3 linked regions of the Homo sapiens genome follow. The protein of the gene in region 2 interacts with the protein of the main gene of each other region in a pairwise test. Each region holds a gene or a part of one and is shown on either strand. Other genes may lie near its edges.

Region 1 (7,031 bases), on a different chromosome or scaffold from region 2:
CCGCCACCTTCTTGCTGTGTCCTCACATCGTGGAGAGAGAGTGAAAACAAGCTCTCTGGTGTCTCTTCTTATAAGAATGCTAATCCTATGATGGGGGCTCCCCCTCCTTACCTCATCTAAACCTAATTATCTCCCAAAGGTCTCATCTCCAGATACCATCACACTGGGGTTAGGGCTTTGACATATGAATCTGGGGGGACACAATTCAATCTGTAACACCAGGAGGGCATGCCGGGAGGAACTGACCTTCCTCCCTCCAGCTGCCCTGGACACCTTTGCCCCATTGAAGGAGCAGGCTCAGAAGTGGAATGAGGATGGAATAAGGTGCACTCCATCATGCTTACCCACATCCCTGGCAGGAATTGTCCTGGGCCCCAGCAGGAGAGATGCCCCCCCATACTGCCATGGCACCTGCTCTGAGACAGGTGTGCAGAGTGCAAAGCTCCAGGTGGCCCCCAAGCAGGTGTGCTGGGAGGAGGGGCCCGTGTGGGAGGAGCAGGCAGCGCCAAGGCCTAGCGGAGCAGTGACAGGTCCCTGACTTCAGGGAATGGGCACGCTGTGGGCAGGCAGCTGGTGTGGGGGTGAGGGCTGGGGCTGCATCTGTGGGACCAGGGCTGGGCCATCCATCATATGCCGTGTCACAACCCCAGTGCCCCTGCTGTAGCCAGGACAGGAGGCTGGGCCAGGCTGGGAGGTGACAAGAGTGGGGGCTGTCCCCAGGAGAAGCACTCTGCTGCCTGTGCCCAGGCCTCTGGGGATGAGGACCCCTCAGAAGGAGTAGCTATGTCTAGGAAGCCCCAGGGCAGGAGCAAGCCAAAGGGGACATCATTAGTGAGATCCAGGGGATCAGTGGGCCACAGAAGCCCCAGCGTGAGCCCCTCTGACTGATGCAGCTAGGCCCACACCTGCACCTGCCCACAGCAAGACCCCCAGGAGGAGAGGGGACAGATGGAGAGAGGCACAAAGTGCCCCTGGCCTCTGCCTTGAAGCCACCCCAAGGCAAGAGAGATTTGAGCCCCTGTTTAGTGACCTCCAGGGGAACATTCTGGCCCATCTGATGTGGGAAGCCCCTTGTGGAGTCTGTCATTCCTCAGCTGAGCCAGGCCTTTGGAGGCAGCCCAGGCATGTCCCCTGTGTGCTCCTATCCCTGTGTTGGGACACCTGGCCCAGCCCCTCCTTCTGCCTTTCTCTTCCCTTCCCTTCTCAGGAGTGGACACTTCCTCCTTTAGCCCCCTCACAGCTGTGTGAACTTCTCTGTATCTCTCTCTTTCTGTCTCTTTCTCCCCCTCTCTCTCTGTCTCATTGTCTCTCTGTGTGTCTGTCTGTAGTATTCTCTCTCTGTCTCTGTCACTCTGTCTCTCTCTCTCTCTGTGTCTACCTTTCTGTATTTCGCTTTGTTTCTTTTTCTCTGTGTGTGTGTGTGTGTATCTGTTTTTCTCACTCTCTCTCTGTGTCTATCTTTCTGTATTTCGCTTTGTTTCTTTTTCTGTGTGTGTGTGTGTGTATATCTGTTTTTCTCACTCTCTCAATCTCTCTCTCTCTTTCTGTCTCTCTTTTGCTGGCCTGAGCAAAGAGGGAGCCCCATCCTGATGCTACATAACCGTGAACCAGCACAGACAGAATTGTAGGAAAGTCCTGCAAGTAGAAGGATAGAAGGATGAGGGAAGAAACGCCATGTGAGTCATGACAGATCCCTTTCCAGGAGCCACTGACTCACCCTGCCTCCTGCCCTCCCACTGTGACACTATTACTCACAGACAGGCCCGGATTAAACCTATGTTCCAGGTGCCCTGTGGTTCCCACAGTGTGGCTCCCTGGGTCTGGCCTCAGGCTCCACAGGTGCCCAGCCCTGCCAAAGTCTCCAGAGCAGCTGTCCAGCTGGGGAGCTGCGGGGCCCCTTCACAGAGCGCATGGGAAGAAGTTCCATCCTACACATTACATCGAGAGGGACGTGCCTGAGAAGGGGAGCTGGAGCCCGTGCAGCCCCCTGCTTGCGTGCAGAACATAGTGTACCCTGAGCATGCCATGAAAAACACAAACGCACAAAGTTGTAAAGAAAAAAGAAATGACAGGTGGCTGTAAAATCAGTTATAGCCCACGAGAGGCCCACTAATGAGTGGTGATTTCAGCTGATTACAAAGAAATGATGGTGTTTCTGTAATGAACTAAACATGCACTCGTGCGTGCACACACGCGCACGTATAGTCACATAACTGACCAGCCCTATGCATCACTTGTTAATTACTTAGTAACTGTAACAATAATAGTTTCCAATAAGTGAGCCTTAGTCTCTGCGCAAGGGTCAGTTTATTGAGCACACGGGGGCCTTGCAGTGGGGGCAGGTGATCTGCTCCTGGGAGCCGCCAGCCTCTCCTCTCCTGCTCTTCATCTTCCTCCGTGGTGGGAAATTGTCTCACTGCTTCTACACCTGAGGCTGAACATCTCCCTTTATTTCAGTCTGAAACACATGTAAAAATATACTGGAATGAATTAAGGTTGCAATTATTGATATCAGGCAGTGAGTACATCAGGGTTTATTATACTATCTCCTTTACTTACTTCGAAGTTCTCTATTACCAAAAAATTAAAAACTATAAAAGAAAGAAAAAGGAAATGAGGCTAGATTCAACACAGATTACTCTTACCAAACCCTTCGTAGTCCCAGGAGTCCCCTAACACAAGCACTTGTGACCTGGAGTGATATTCACAGCATTCCTTACCTGGCAATACCTGAGTATTAGCCCCCCCAGTGGGATCTTTGTTGTAGACAACCAGCAACTATCAGCCCAGCCAATAAACAAGTAGGAAAGGGGAGTGCTGGAGAGGCCAAGAAGTGGGATTTTCCATGCTCCTGGGCTGTGATCCAGAGGGCACGGCTGTGAGGCTGATCTCAATGAACACTCTGTCTTGGAAGTACAGGGATCCTCTGCTACCTGAAAACGTTCTGAGTATTCACTTTCATGGATTGCAAAGTCATTTACCCAAAATTCACTCTCCAAATGAAAAGTGAGTATGATGAATCAGTATTCAAGTTCCACCTGGGTCCTGGGAGAGGGCATGGACATCATATCCCAGCTGTTCCGACAGGAGGACCCAATCTGAGTCTCACTGCCTGCCTGCATCGTTTGTCTGCTGCCAGCCTGCACAGTAGGAAGGGAAAACATGATTTGTATCTGTTTTAGGTCAGGTTCCCAAGAAGTAGAGCCTGAGATTGGAATTCTTGGAAAATGGTGTTTGCGGGAGCGCTGTCAGCAGAAGCTATAAGGAAGTTGGGGGGACAGAAAACGAGAGGTAAGAAGCCAGTCAAAAAGGCAGGTCCAGCTTAAGTCCGCCTCAGTCTGGTTCCACAAGGGCTCTGATGCATGAAGAATATCACAGGGTTGTCCCTCCTGGGAGAGGGGCCAGCCTATTGTACCTGTATCAAAGCCACCAGCTGAGGGCCAGTGGGGAGGGAAGATCTTCCAGGCATTTCCAGGAAACTCTCAGGAGAAGGGTGTAGCTGTGAGCAGTCTGCAGCTGCTGCTCACTGCGGCTAAAGGCTGGGTGTGCAGGCCAGTCAGCCAGTGAGGTGCCAACAGCAGGCACTACAGTCCACCCCTTGACTGCTCAGACCTACTGCTTTCCACTTTAAGCTCTCTCCATCCAGGCACAGCTTCAGGGAAAACTTACAATTGGAGAAACAGAGGGATGAACTACAATGCCCACTTCTGCATGTGATTGTAAGACTGTCACTGATACTCACCATCATGCCCCATCCCCACCATCCATTCTAGTGTCCCCTTCCCCTTGGCTAACACTGCTGGTCTAGGTGACTTCCCTAGAGCAGGAGCCAAACCCTTATCCCTGAGGCATCTGAATCCTGGATTCCTTTATCAGGCTATTGTTGTTGTAAGTTGTCCATTCCCAATTACAACTGGACATGAGACTACCAAGAAACACCCTGGCAAATCATCTGAGTGCAAGCCATATTCTTCCTGCTCCATTATGTAGCGGTAGTCCTACCTCCTAATGACAAGGGTAAATTGCCACATTTTGCTCCTTGTGCCAGGATGGTAATACCTTTCTCTACCTGCTTGGCTACTGGCACAAGGAAGCACAGCATGACCAGGAGGCAATTGTAGCTGTACATTTAGTGAATGTGTTAATGTATCACCTGGTGGAAGGACCCCCTCTGAGAACCAGGACTTCTAGACCCACAAAACCTAAAGTTGTGAATGGCGGAAGCACAAATTTCCCAAGTGGATCATGGAGAGTGATGAAGAGTTCTTGGTTCCCAAACCCACATATTTTACCTTTCAGGAACATGGCCTCATCCCATAGCCATTAGAGTGCATATTGCATTCTGGAGGAGACTGGGCCCTCCTCATGGGTGTCATCTTCAAGATGACAGCTCCACTGTGCCTCCAAGAGGATGCTCCACCACCCTATCTGTGATTCCTTGGTTAGCAGGACAGGCTGCTGCACTGAGGGTAGGAAAGGCAAGTCCATTGATGGCTGGAATACATGTCAATCCAAGTCAAGAGAAAATGCCGCCCTTTCCAGGTTGGAAGGGGCCCGATTTAGCCAACTTGTCACCCAGTAGTGGCTGGTTGGTCTCCTCCAGGAGCAGTGTTATACCAGGAATTCAGCACCAGTCGCTATTGCTGGCAGTTCTTACATTCAACAGCAGCAAAACTAGGTCAGCCTTGATGAGAGGGAATGTATGCTTCTGGGCACAGGCATGGCTTCCTTCTCTGACTCCATGACTATCTATTTCTGAGTGCATGGTGGCCGACATTCAGCTGCCTGCCCATCCTATCCACTTGGTTATTATTGCCTCTTCCACAAGAAGTGGTTTCTGGCTGTCATTAATGTCTCATACTTTGTGCCCACTCACACAGGTTTAGCTCTACAACTTTTCCCCATGCCACCACTTTTCCACAATCTTCTAATGTTGCTCCTTCCAAGCTACTGAAGAACGAGCTAAGCTATTCACCAATGTCCATGAGTCTATATTTACCTTAGGCCACATCTCTCTCCACACAAAGTGAATAAGCAGGTGCACCCTCCAAAACTCTACTAAGAGGATTTCTTCTCCCCAGTGTCTTTCAGGGCCACCTTGAGTGGGGCTGAAGTACAGCAGAAGTCCATTTCCAGCTTGCATCAACATTCCAAACTAACCTATCCATGATCAATGCATAGATGGGTTTTTCCCTCCTCCAGCAGCTAGACAAAAGACACCCCCCACCAGGAGGCCATATTTGCATGTGGGTGAAAGAGAGGCACAGGGGCCAATATTCGTGCAACAGTGGTAGATGGCAGGTGGGTCTGGGCCACCTGTCCCTGCAGCTTATCTGTGCCATCTGGACCTGCTCAAGCCTGATTCCAGATATACCATTTCCATCTTATGATGGATGGCTTATGACCTAGTGGGTCTGACAGCACCAAACTCATAATGGGCAGTTATGGCCACATGGTCACTTAATGTCCTATGGTCAGACACTCTGCTGAGTGGCATGCCAGGAAATGCTTTACAAGTGGTGTTTGGTTCTCTGCTGCAGATGGCATGACCTTGGTCCGGAGCCCTAGGGGTTTGGACAGTGACTCCTGTTGGGGCCTAATCTCACATTCCATGCAGAGTATCATCAGATTTGCCAATCACATAGCCTAAGGGTCAGGACTGATCCAACCAGTTTTTGCAGAGATCAAACTGGAGAATGAAAGGTTGATATGATGTGACCATCATATCACGTTTTTCTCTCTTGAAAAGTATGCAGATGTCTGAAAGAGACAAGTGCCCCAGGAGAAAATGCATGCCTTCCTCAGGATCGGCCCCCACCTCCCCTCCTGGCCACAAGGAGGGTCAAATCTCAGCATGGCCCAACTTGGACCTGTCAAGGAAGAAGAAAAAAATTGTATGCCAAAGGAACTCAGTCTTTGGCTAACAAGTACTAGACATCCTTTAAGTCTTTGAGAATGGTAATAATTTCTGCCATCCCTCCAGATTTGTGTTTTTCTGTTTTGGCTGGGTGGGAATGCAGCATTTTCACTTTGCCTTTGTTATTACAAATGTTGCTTATTCTATAAATCAAGGAACCATTGTAAGGGCTCTTCTGATGGTTAAGTATATCCATTCCAATGATTTATTCGGGATCCAAGGAAATGATTTCTGGGTGAATACACAGAACTAGTGGATCCAATTTGAGACATACCTGGGCCAGAACTATATTTGTCGTCTTACCCCAATAAGCCTGCACTCTACTAGGACAGCCATGACAGCACTTTGGGACCCTAGATATAAGTGTGAATTGCTGGCTGGGCATGGTGGCTCACGCCTGTAATCCCAGCATTTTGGGAGGCTGAGGCAGGTAGATCACCTGAGGTCAGGAGTTGAAGACCAGCCTGGCCAACACGGTGAAACCCCATCTCTACTAAAAAATACAAAAATTAGCTGGGCGTGGTGGTGGGTGCCTGTAATCCCAGCTACTCGGGAGGCTGAGGCAGGGAGAATTGCTTGAACCCAGGAGGCGGAGGTTGCAGTGAGCCAAAATCACACCACTGCACTCCAGCCTGGGTGACAGAGCGAGATTCCATCTCAAAAAAAGAAAAAAAAAAGTGTGAATTGCTATGAAATCACTATCAAAAGATCTGAGTGTTACCCTTACTCAGTGTGGTCGAATATAAATAGCCATAGGTTCCTGTTATACACACTTGCTGTGGTGCTACAGAGTCTTTCCTCATGGGAACCCAGTCCCTCTTTCAGTCAATGGGTTCTGGTTCGAGAACTGGCTGAGGTTTGGAAACTGTGCCTTTCCATCATAACTTTCCACTGGGGTGACTGACCTTGGCCTTCTGTTCATCCTTTCTAGCCCCTAAGAATCCAACACTCTATTAGCCTTCTCCTTAGACCCCTATAAGCTAATCCCTTCTAGTTGTTAGTCTGACCTTGGTGCCCAATATGATAATTATTCCCACTTTGCTTCTGATATGCTTCTAAGTGCTGCCCCTGGTCTCTGCCCTTAAGTGATCTATCATCCCCACTGCCATTAGGG
Region 2 (5,225 bases):
GTGAGCCGAGATTGAGCCACTGCATTTCAGCCTGGGGAATGGGACAAGATCCTTGTCTCAAATAAATAAATAAATAAATAAAATAAAATAAAATAAAGGGCCAGGGGAGGTGGCTTACGCCTGTAATCCCAGCACTTTGGGAGGCCGAGGCGGATGGCTCACGAGGTCGGGAGATCAAGACCATCCTGACTAACACGGTGAAACCCCGTTTCTGCTAAAAATACAAAAAATTAGCCGAGCATGGTGGCCTGTGCCTGTAGTCCCAGCTACTTGGGAGGCTGAGGCAGGAGAATGGCGTGAACACAGGAGGTGGAGCTTGCAGTGAGCTGAGATTGCGCCACTGCACTCCAGCCTGGGTGACAGAGCAAGACTCCATCTCAAAAACAAACAAACAAACAAACAAAAAGATTCAGCATTATTTTCCAGGGTTAATAGATTTGTTCAAATAACTAAAACCGCATTAAACAAAAATGTCATTGGACAACAAATAAGCAATCCAGACCAATATGGTCACAGTCGTTGTGAAGATGAGAAAACTTCATCTTTATTGCATTTTCCCAGGTAGCGCAGTGCACTGTCCTCTTTGAAACACACAGCTCCTGTCCTCCTTTCAAACACATGTCCTCTTTAAAGTAACATACAAACCTTTCAATACAAGCTAAAAAATTACGTCTGAATTCTCACAGTTCAATAACAAACAAACACTCAACATCAAATAAAAATTTATTTTTACAAGAATTTCGGGGAAATGCCACCTAGCTATAAATAGAATAGATATATTATGTAACTACTCTAGGTCATAACAGTGCTCCCTTCAGCAGCACATGTAATAACAGATAAAAAGATTTAAAAATAAAACATTTAGGATAAAAAGAATCCTCTCTTAAAAATGAAAACAGAATTATATCTATGTGTATATAACAGGTGTAACACCCATCACACAACTTCATAAGAACAGTGTCTTTTAAAAAATACTTGTATTTCTAAACTAGTTAAATAAATGTAGTAATAATGCCATGCCCATCATTTTCAAAATAAACAAATAAAATGTATAGTATATATTGGACATGTTAGTATATATGGAAGGCATGTTAAAAATCACAACTGAATTCTCACAATTCAGTAACAAACAGTAAACAGAAAATAAACATTTCTATTTGCAAGAATGTAGGGGAACTACCACCTAGCTATAAATATAATGGATATATTAGGTCAGTATCATAGATTACAAGAGTGCTCGCTTCAGGAGCACATTTAATAATAGATAAAACGATTTAAAGAGAAAACATTTACGATAAAAAGAATCCTCTCTTAAAAATGAAAACTAAATTATATTTATGTGTATATAACAACCGTCAGAGAACTCTATAGGAACAGCATGTTTTCAAAACTACAAAAACCCCAAACTATTTTAAATCAACCTAGTAATAATTCTATGGCCAACATTTGAAAAATAAACCAACAAAATGTACAGTATCTATTAAACTATCTCTTAAAATCCTATGGCAGTAATTTCATATTTTACAAAGAATTCCGTAACAATCTGAGTGCCTGCGCTGTGCCTTCAAATGCTCTGGACTGTGGCAACCAAGTCCATAGGAAACAGGAACTCCAGCTTCCAGCCCAGGGGAGGCTGGGATTCAGCAACGTGAAAAGGGAGGTTTTGCCGCAGGAAGGGGTGGAACCAGAAACACCCCTGGTTTCTCACTTTCCCTCCACTGACTCCTAGAAATACCTCCATGGCTCCTAGGAGGAAAACCTGGTCAATCTATTTTGCCCCTTCTAGAAGAGTCCAGCTTCTTCTAGATGATCTGCACAGGAGGCTCCTCTCTCCCTTCCTGGTGTCTGGCATTAGCGTCGCGATAAACTTCCTGCTGAAAATTCCCATCTCCCCTGGGCCCAGTGTTCTGGAAGTGAGAGAGAGGATGTCACACTTCAAGGAGGGAGATCTCTAGATAGGAAGGTTATTCCCATCCCACATCAATCCTAACTAGAGTTCAGAGCAATATATAAATCTGATTTTATCTCTAACCCTTTATTGTAAACCCTGATTCTGAACCATCATTTTTGATTCTGGTACTCACACTTTGGTGAGCTTGACTCCAAAAATCACTTAATATACCCAAGGTTAGCCCCAGTGATCTGCTTCATAGCAAGGACTTTGGGTGGCTCCACCCAGGGAGTAGAGCACCCTTGGAGGACGTGGCTTTGGACTTCATCACACTTGGGGCCCTTTATATTGCTTAAGATCTAAACTTTTAACCATGCTACAAACATGTCTAACACGACAACCTCAGGAACCAGCAGACCAGATTCCTAATCCCCAACCTTAATCTCTCATGTTTTAGTCTAATGCTTGGTCCTAAATGTGGTTAGCTGCACAAGATGTCAACCAAATCTTCACTGAATCCTTTCCTCAAATCAGTAACTCAAGTGTATCAACCATAATGAACCTCCCTGGACCTAGGTAGTATTCTCATTTTTGAGAAAGAGTGTCACTCTGTCGTCCCGGCTGGAGTGCAGTGGCAGAATCACAGCTCACTGCAGCCCCGACCTCCGGGGCTCTGGTGTTCCTTCCGCCTCAGGCTCCTGAGTAGTGGGGACTAGAGGCGCCCACCAGGACGCCCGGCTAATTTTTGTATTTTTGTGGAGACGGGGTGTCGCCATGTTGACCAGGCTTGAAGCTGGATCAAGCAGTTGAGTTCCTTGGATTTTCTTATAGATGAGAATATTCTGCCTTTACCCTGGAGGATACACACGTACCTTCCCTCAGGCCGATGACCTCAGGCCTCCATGTCCCCGGAGCTCTAGGAAATGAGGGTGCGATCTCGGGCCCACACCCAGTGCTCTGGGTCATAAGCCTGGATCTGGAAAAACACACACCACTTGAGAAGCCAGGGATTCCCCAGGAAGCCCCCTCTCTGCCCTCCTCCAGCCTCCAGTCCACCCCATCCCTCCCCACCCCCACCTCCTCATATGGCCCCACCTACCTCCTCCATCTCCTCTGGGGAAACCCACGTCCTCCAGCGCATGGAACAGAGGAGCTGGTATCGAAGCTTATGGAACAAGGGTCGCTGGGAGTAGTTCTTCCCGTAGAGGAAGGAGAAGATGTCTTGTTTCGGGGCCTGGTTGTCCTCCTCCATGTCACTGGCCAGGTAGCTGGGGAGAGAGATCAGGTTGCTGCTCAGGGGCCCCACCAGGAGGGACCCCTGCCTGAGGGCAGCCTCTCAGAGAGGAGGGCAGGGGACCTTCCTCAGCTCAGCACCAACAGCCGCCCTGCAGAGAGCCCTGCCTTCCTCAGGAGGCCCCGCTGGACAGAGACCTGCTAAGGGTGCCTCTCAAACCTTCAGGAAGGAGATGATCCAAGTGGTAGCTGGGAGTGGTGGCTCTTGCTTGGAATCCCAGCACTTTGGGAGTCCAGGCAGGAGGATCACTGGAGGCCAGGAGTTAGGGACCAGTCTGGGTAATATGGCAAGACCCCCTCTGAATTTAAAAACAACCCAAGTCTTATGCTAAGGATGTGTCCTGCCATCCTTATACAAGACAGATGACGTCACCTCATCCTAGTCCCCATCCCTGTTCCTCCCACACCCCCCTTCCTTGTCATGTATGCACACACCTGTCTTCCCCCGTGCATCATAAGTGCCCCCAAGGACAGGAACTGACTGGTGTGTTTCTGTAAATCATCTCTCACCTACCAAAAGGCCACTAGAGGGCTTTGTTTATCTTGGTGCATTAATTCAACAAGCATTGCTGTGAACTCTCCCTTCCCATCCTTCCTATTCCCTGGCACATATGATGAACTTCATAAGGTTTTGTTGAATAAATGAATACATGAATGAATGAAGGAAAGAAGGAAAGATTTATCTTATAGGCAAATGCCATATGAATTATTCCATAGAGTCAATATAACATGAGCACTTGCAAAATGAAAAGAATTGTGCTGAGTGTTTCAGGAATACTTTGATATTTTGGCTGATTGGGTGGCTCATGTCTATAATACCAGCACTCTGAGAGGCTGAGGTGAGAACCCAGGAGTTCCAGAACAGCCTGGGTGACATAGCAAAACGTCATCTCTACTAAAAATCATAAAAACTGGCTAGATGTGGTGGCATGCACCTGTAGTCCCAGCTACTCAGGAGGCTGAGGTGGGAGCTTCACTAGAGCCTAGGAGATGGAGGCTGCGGTGAGCTATGATCTGGCTACTGCACTCCAGCCTGAGGGACAGAGCAAGTCTCTGTCCGGTAAAGATAAAAACAAAAAACTTTGATATTTTGACAAGACCCTGCCTTCAACAGGGGTCTACTCTGATGGGTTTGGGGAAAAGGAGGGCAGATAAACGAATCCAAAATGTCACATTATCCTAGGATGTCACTAAAGTGCTGTGGGCGTGCAGAAGCTGGAAGATCAGGGGAGGCATTGCAAAGGCTGTGGGGTTGAACTGACTTTAAGGAATGGGTCATTCCCTTCAGATCCACATGTGTGCAGGACACCCAGACAGAAAACACAAAATCAAAATGGAGTGGAGGGCATTTGGAAGGAGTGGCGAAAGCAAACAAGGAAAGATGAAGATGGTGGGCAGGTTTGGTGGTAGAAGGACTGCAGAGAGGGTTGAATTAGCCCTGTGGACCCGGGCCTCCGTTTAGAGACAAATCAGCTAAGGAGGTTGTTCAGGTGGGCAGTGAAGGGGGGGTGGGAGCTGTGCTTTGGAAAGCTATTCAGGCAGCACTAGGAAGCCCCCTGGCTTGGGGCAGGACTCGCAGGAATGCCCAGCAGGGAGTATTTGATGATGGATCTGTGTTATGCGAGGACGACCTGAATTTCTGCCTCTGTCATGGGAACCTGGAGAAGGAGGATGGAAAATTGCATTTGGTGTTGATATGGGAAGGAGAGAGACGAGAGAACCAGAAATGGCTGCTTGCTTGGGGAGCAGGGTCGTGTCCACGGCTTTCCTTTCCCCTTAGGACGGGTTTATGTTTCCTTTTGTTTGATTCTACTATTTGTCAACTGCATTTGTGTTTGTTTTTAGAAAGAACAGACTAAGAACACCATAGTATAATCTTATCGTTTTTATATACAGAGTAAAGAGGAGAAGTAGGGTAAAAAAATAGATGGAAGGTTGGAATCCCACTTCGTCCACTGTCCCAGGGTGTTGGATATTGACAGATGGGAAGAAGCAAACTACTCACAGAGCCAGGAAGAAATGAATGCGTTGGTATTGCCAC
Region 3 (7,031 bases), on a different chromosome or scaffold from region 2:
AAATCCTGTTCCATCCCAGCAGTACATTCTTTTTTCCATATCATCTGCCATCCCTGAGAGTATATTATGTACTTTTTCATTCTCCGTCTCTCACCAGAATGAGAGCACCGCGAGGGCTTTCTTATTCACTGTTGTATCTCCAGCTTTTAGAAGAGTGCCTGGCCTACAGAAGGAGTCTAATAGGTATTTGTTAAATGAATTAACAATAAAAAAAAAAAACCAGTCACATTTGTTTGAGCTCCCACTTTGTGTCAAGCCCATGCTAACCACTGTACCAACATCAGCTCATTTACTACTCACAACCAGCCTAGGAGGTGCACGTAACCACACTCCCGACAGGTGAGCTGGCTCAGCAGGGTAAGGCAACTCCTCTACATTTAGTAAGTATTCATGTGAAGCACAAGGCAAGCCCAAGCTCCACAGTCCTGCTCTACCCTGAACCAAACTGTCTTGCCATAGTCCACAGCTGGATGAAATTTCCTCAGATTTGTCTTATCCCAGACTCAAGAGTCCCAAATGGTCCCTGAGTCATGCTCAATCAAATCTGAACTCCTCTGTCTAGGAGTCTCCATTAACTGGCCCCAAACTGCTCCTTACTGTCCCCTAAACAGGCAGTTCCGAGATCTGTAAATTTTACAGGGGCCTTTGAATCACATTTGATGCATTTGTTCTGGGTGTGGAGAGGTGGCTGGGTGATGTCACAAGAGCCAGTCTAGAGTGGAAGATGTGACACCGGGGGTGGCGGGCTCCCTCCCTACCCCTGCATGCCTCTGTCACTCCTGCCCTGTACCCACCCTTCTTCCTAAATTCAAAATGCCCTTCCCTCTACTTCCCAAGACCCATCTCGCATATGCCTCCTTCCCATCCTAATCTCATTCCATTGTGCTTTTTCCCTTATTGTGAATTACTCCAACCTATATTATATACATAATCCACACCGTACTATCATACATTTGCATATTTATATTATCCCATTCTAGTTGTTTCTTATAATGAATAGTTTGTTTCCTGGCAGGGCAGGGAACTGCAAGGAAAAAGAAAATGCCTTGGCTTTTAATGCTTAAGTGCTTCTCCCAGGCCTTAGAATAGCACAGGATACCCAGCAGACTCTTGGCAAATACTCATCAAATGAATAAAATTAACAGAGCTTGCTGTTCAACACGTTACATTTCAGGTGTTCCTGGGGCTACCAAGAGGAGAGATGAAATCAAAGTGAGAGTGACGCACAGGATAATCAGCATATAATTAATCACAGCAGCTGGTGAGCACTGTGAGGCCAAGTGCAGAGCAGGAAGAGCTAAAGGAAGAACTTGACAGGATGTTATGTCTTACAGAGAGGACAGAAAGGTTAGTAGAAACAAATAAAAGACACTCAGAGGGCTAAGGAAAGAGCCTCTATAGTTATTATAATATGGGAAAGTTGAAGGTAGAAAAATGGTTTAAAATGAAATGAAGCAGGAAGTCAAAGGGTATTTGAATTGACAAGGCATCTGGCAAAGATGTATTACAAGAAAGCATGTGGAAAGAATGGTTCCACAGTAGTCAGACTGAGGGACAGCTGGGAATGGAAGTGGTACATCAACTTGCTGAAGAGCCCAGGATGTCATTTGCTGCCCATCTGAGATGTTTAACAAAAAACGTGTCACCTAATCAGCTAGAAAATATGAACTAGTGACCCAGGAGAGCCTAACTCCTGCTTGCCTTCCACCATAGACCTGCCAGTGGGCTGCTCAGTCATTCATTATACTTGAGGCTGGGTGCAGTTATTTGAAGATCTTTTGAGTGATTCAATTTCATTAAAATTACACCATGGAAATGTGACATTATGAAGGATCATGAACCAACTACAGAAATACAGAAAAGCTGTGGCATGAGCAACTCACACCTGAGTCACTTCCAATACTTGTACCCTAATCATGGACTCTCAGTTCACTGGTATTAAGAATTAAAATTTATTTCATAACAACATGAGGGGGAGAGAGGAAGAAGACAGGAAAGAAGTACATCGAAGTACCGACGGAACCCTTTCAGACAAAGAAAGTAGAATGAAGCAGGACTAGACTCTGCCTCCCTGTTGTGCCGAACCTCTATTGACTCCAATGGGGATGGCATCAGGTTCAATAGACCGAAGAGACCTAATGCCAGCAAATGAGACATGGGGTTTTATTGGGGACTTACATACAGGGCAGAGAGTCCAATGGTGGCGGAGAACCACAATGGCTTGCAAAAAGCATGCAGTTTATATAGCATTTCCACTTAGCACCTTCTCCCTAACAATCTCCACCTGGCAATCTTCATTCAACTCAAAACTCGGGGCCTCAACCCGTGTGCGGCCCATGTTTCACAGGACGAGCCAGGGGCTCAGATGTCCCTTTATAGACAAGGAAGGAACCTCCAGGTTGGCTACTCCTGGATTCCCTAGCTCAGAACACACATTCAGATGCGTCTGCCATACAGGGTCATTCTAAGGGTATGTTTCAGTTATTGCTATCAGGCACGTTTACCACATGCTCCCAACACCCAATAAAGTGAACATACAAAAATTAAAAATTAAAAAGTCAAAAGTTCACCAGCATCAACCAAATAAGAAAAGGGAACCAAACATGCTAAAATTGTAAAAAGAGTCAGCCAAGAGGAAAAAATAGAAAATTCTTCCATCTGTATTCCCTGAAACCAGTAACCAGGAAAGAAATGTCATGCTGAGATTCTCACAAATACCCTCCGATTCTGAACAGCCAACAGGGGAGTGGGTGAGCAGCTCTGAAAACAAAGCCCTTGAGGGCAGAAGCCCACACATATCACAGGGGCTCGGGAGTGGCAGGGCAGGCACGCAGGGCTGGCCACCTTCCAGGGTGCTGGGCCATACTTGGGGACTACCCAGAGCCTGGAGTGGTGACAGAGGGACACCACTGGCTGGTGGAGGGGGCTCTGGGACAAGACTTTAAGGGAGTCTGGGAAGATAGAACAGAGGCTAGCCCTCCCACAAGGGGCTCGCTCAGCATGAGCTGAGCTCCAGTTCTCTCCCACACCTCTTCAGGCTAGAATAGAATAGAGAGAAAGCAACCTAACATTTGAAGTGGGGAAGACAACCAGTTCCACATAAGTGGGGAGAATGACAAGGAGACTCCACTTACACTGTATCTGAGCAAGTAAAAGGTGGGGATAATGTAGGTGTTGACATCAAGCATGGATAAGATGAAAACAAATGGCATGGAAACTAGGCAAACATACCACAACCAACAGAAGGACAGAAAGGAGGAGGGGAGAAAGGAAAAGAAAACCCAGGAACTCAGCCTGGGAGAAAGTGGCTTCTCCATGGCTATCTCAAGCTATGGATGATTCAAGAGAAGTAAAAATATAATATAACAAAAGCTCAAAGACAAGATAATACACCACAGAATAAGATGAAAAGATTGCAGAGTGAAGGAAACAAATTTAGATTCAAATGGCATCAGTAATGAGCTAGTAGATAAATTAGAGCAGTAAAGAACAGAATAAAAATGACTGAAAATTGAGTAAGGCACAGAGTAAAGGTCTGAGATTATTTTAGTGAATGCAGGGAAAAAAGAAAAAAAAATCCTATCACACAATCAAAAGAAATATGATAGATATGGAAGGCAAAGGTGATGAAACAAATAACTATATTTCCTGAAATAGAAAATCCAGTAAGTATAACAGAGAAAATATTCAGAAATAGAAATCAAAAAATTAACCCTGATGTAAAGGAAGGAGTAAATCTGGCCTCAGTATTCTCCAAAACCATATTCAAAAATGAGAAGGCAGCCAGGCATGATGGCTCATGCCTGTAATCCCAACATTTTGGAAGGCCGAGGCAGGAGGATCACTTAGGCCCAGGAGTTTGAGACCGGCCTCAGCAACAGTGAGACCTCAACTCTATAAAAAATTTAAAAATTAGTGAGGCATGCTGGTGAATGCCTGTAGTCTCAGCTACTCGGGAGGCTGAGGTAGGAGAAATGCTTGAGCCCAGGGGATGGAGATTGCAGTGAGCCATGATTGTATCACTGTACTCGAGCCTGGGCCTAGGTGACAGAGCAAGATCCTGTCTCCAAAAACAACAACAACAACAACAAAAACAAACAACAACAAAAAACCAAACCAGAAGGCAATTGATCAGAAATGTCTAAAAAGATCTCAGAATGCTATACCCAGTTATGGTCTTTTTTTCTTCCTTTTAAATATTTTTATTTTATTTTAATTTATTTATTTAGAGATAGTGTCTCACTGTGTCGCTCAGGCTGGAGTGCAGTGGGCACAATCATGGCTCACTGCAGTCTCAACCTCCCAGGTTCAAGTGATCCTCCTACCTCAGCCTCCCAGTAGCTGGGATTACAGGCATATGCGACCATGCCCAGCTAATTTTTTATTTTTTGTAGAGACGGGGTCTCACTATGTCGCCCAGGCTGGTCTTGAACTCCTGAACTCAAGTGACCCTCCCGCCTCAGCCTCCAAAGTGCTAGGCTTACAGGTGTGAGCCACCATGCCTGGCCTAAAAAATTTATTTTAAAAAAGTAATTTATCTCTTACAGTTGTGGAGGCTGAGAAGTCCAAGGTCAAGTGGCCACATTTGGTGAGAGCCTTCTTGCTGGTGGGGACTCTGTGAAGTCCCAAAGTGGCACAGTGCATCACACAGTGAGGGGGCTGAGCATGCCAACATGCTATCTCTTTTCAAGTATAAAAGTAACAGGCAGAAATTCTGAAACATGAATGAACTTAAAAATACAACACATTCCAGCTCTTGTAACAAAAAACCACTGGACAATTGTGATTCTTGAGCATTCTGAAAAAAAAACACTAAAAAACCACTAGACAAGAAATCCTGCCCTCCAGCACTTGCGAAGGTAAAAGCGAAGCAAGTTGTGAACACTAAATACACTGAAACGTAGGACCCACACTGTAGCTGAAGGAATGATGAGTGCAGAACAGATAATAATAAAACTAACAACAAAAATTAAGGTCGGGGAAAAATAAGAATGGGTAGAAATTTAAGTACTAATTGCCTCATCTTTCACTGTAGGAAGTCAAATATTCTGTTCTATATATATGAAATTAAATGTAATATGTTCTGTTTTAAAAACAATAGCTTATATATCCTATTTTTTTGAAACTACTTCCATTTATCCTGTCATCCCTTAAACCAGACATGATGGGCACCAAAAGTTAACACTGTTCCTTTCTGAAAGATGGGATATTTAGGGATTAGTTAATGATGGTTAGAAATCTTTAGGAGCTATGCTTATGAATGATTTTTCCCCTTTTCTCTGCTTTCTTATATATTCTGTATTTTGAAATGCATCCATATACATTAAAAAAAAAAAAACCCAAAAACCTGAATGCTTCTGACCATAGATGATAAATCATGAGACGATTAAGAATGACAAAAAAGAACAAGACTGAGAAAAGACTCTGCTATAGAGAAAACCAAACTTGTTTAAAGGCAAACGAGCAGAAATTAGCAGAGAAGAAGCAGACTGAGAAGCAAGGGCCCTTGAAATGAGTAAGGGTTCCACCAGTTCACTAATAAACCCCATCTAAATGCCAGTAACTCCCAAATTAATACCTCCATACCAGGTCTTTCCCTGAACCCCATATTCCTATCCAACTACTTACTCATGAGCATAGTCGGCCCTCCCTACATGTGGGTTCTACATTCATGGGTTCAACTAACCGCGACTGAAAACATCTTGGGGGGAAGCATCTGTACTGAACATGTATAGAACTATTTTTCTTGTCATTACTCCCCAAACAATACAGTACAACAACTATTTACATAGTGTTTACATCTTGCCCCTACATCTATTCTCTAAACAGCAGCTAGAGTGATCCTTTTATTTATTTATTTATTTGAGAGGGAGTCTCAATCTGTTACCCAGGCTGGACTGCAGTGGTGCGATCTTGGCTCACTGCAACCTCCATCTCCTGGGTTCAAGCAATTCTTCTGCCTCAGCCTCCCGACTAAGAACCTGAGATTACAGGTGCCCACCAACCCGCCCGGCTAATTTTTGTATTTTAGTAGACAGAGCGTTTCACCATGTTGGTCAGGCTGGTCTTGAACTCCTGACCTCAAATGATCCAACTGCCTCGGGCTCCCAAAGTGCTGGGATTACAGGCGTGAGCCACCGTGCCCAGCCTAGAGTGATCCTTTTAAAGCATAGATCAGATCATGTCTTTCCTTTGCTCAAAACTCTCCAATGACTCACATCACATCTTACTCAGAATAAAACCCAGTCTCTACCATGCCCTATAAGGTATCATATCTTATGATTTCCAGCACAGGTTCCTGCCTCAGGGCCTCTGTGTTTGCTCTTCCCTCCATCCAAAATGTTCTCCCCACAGTTGCAAGGTTCACTTTCTTACTTCATTCAGATCTCTTCTCCAATAATGTCAGAGAGGAGTTCCCTGACTTTTCTACTAAAATTCCATCCCCACACCCTTTTCCTGCTTTATTGAGAGCAATAATTCTGTCTCTTTGTTTATAGGTATCTCCCTAGAGCTTAAAAAAGTATCTGACACAAAACAGGTACTCAGTATTTGTTAAATGAATGAATCGATAAAAGAACCCAGGATTTTATTATTCTCAAAATATTATAAAGTCTTTCCTTCTTATTGATCAGACTACTTGCATCACTATAATTCAGACAAATATTATTTGTTCTTAGTGAGCAGTACATGTAAGTTATGAAAAACTCTACCAAGCCTAGGAGTAAAGGTTGGTTTCTGGTCAATTCCACACATGTGTGTTTGAGGAAGGCAGGCGTTGTCACCAGAATCAACCAACACAGACCTTAGTAAGTGGAAAAGAGAGCTCTGGCTGCCTTATCACCTATTTACGACAGAGACTTCAGAAACTAATGCTGGCTTTAGAAAAAAAGACGAAAAGGAGAAAAAAAAAAGAAAACATAAACTAATGTTGGCTTAACTGTACCTGTCCCTGTTGGGTCACCTCCTTGGATCATGAAGTCTTTGATAATTCTGTGGAATTTTGTGCCATTGTAGTAACCTCGACGAGCCAA

What was found. Proteins that work in one complex are often made in the same cells at the same time.
Region 1: the proteins of SPDYE4 (region 2) and GCK interact in binary tests that used the Homo sapiens proteins (3 or more experiments, as listed by UniProt).
Region 3: the proteins of SPDYE4 (region 2) and PPIL1 interact in binary tests that used the Homo sapiens proteins (3 or more experiments, as listed by UniProt).

The regions. Positions count from the first base shown.
Region 1 is NC_000007.14:44,179,411-44,186,441, reverse strand, and holds part of GCK (hexokinase-4), read left to right. Parts: intron 1-2,288; exon of another isoform or gene 2,289-2,458; intron 2,459-2,981; exon of another isoform or gene 2,982-3,140; intron 3,141-4,292; exon of another isoform or gene 4,293-5,051; intron 5,052-7,031. UniProt on the Homo sapiens protein: Catalyzes the phosphorylation of hexose, such as D-glucose, D-fructose and D-mannose, to hexose 6-phosphate (D-glucose 6-phosphate, D-fructose 6-phosphate and D-mannose 6-phosphate, respectively).
Region 2 is NC_000017.11:8,750,331-8,755,555, forward strand, and holds the end of SPDYE4 (speedy protein E4), read right to left. Parts: coding exon 5,190-5,225; intron 3,160-5,189; coding exon 2,991-3,159; intron 2,868-2,990; coding exon 2,808-2,867; 3' UTR 2,764-2,807; intron 1,908-2,763; 3' UTR 523-1,907; downstream 1-522.
Region 3 is NC_000006.12:36,864,775-36,871,805, forward strand, and holds part of PPIL1 (peptidyl-prolyl cis-trans isomerase-like 1), read right to left. Parts: coding exon 6,944-7,031; intron 1-6,943. UniProt on the Homo sapiens protein: Involved in pre-mRNA splicing as component of the spliceosome. PPIases accelerate the folding of proteins. Catalyzes the cis-trans isomerization of proline imidic peptide bonds in oligopeptides. Catalyzes prolyl peptide bond isomerization in CDC40/PRP17.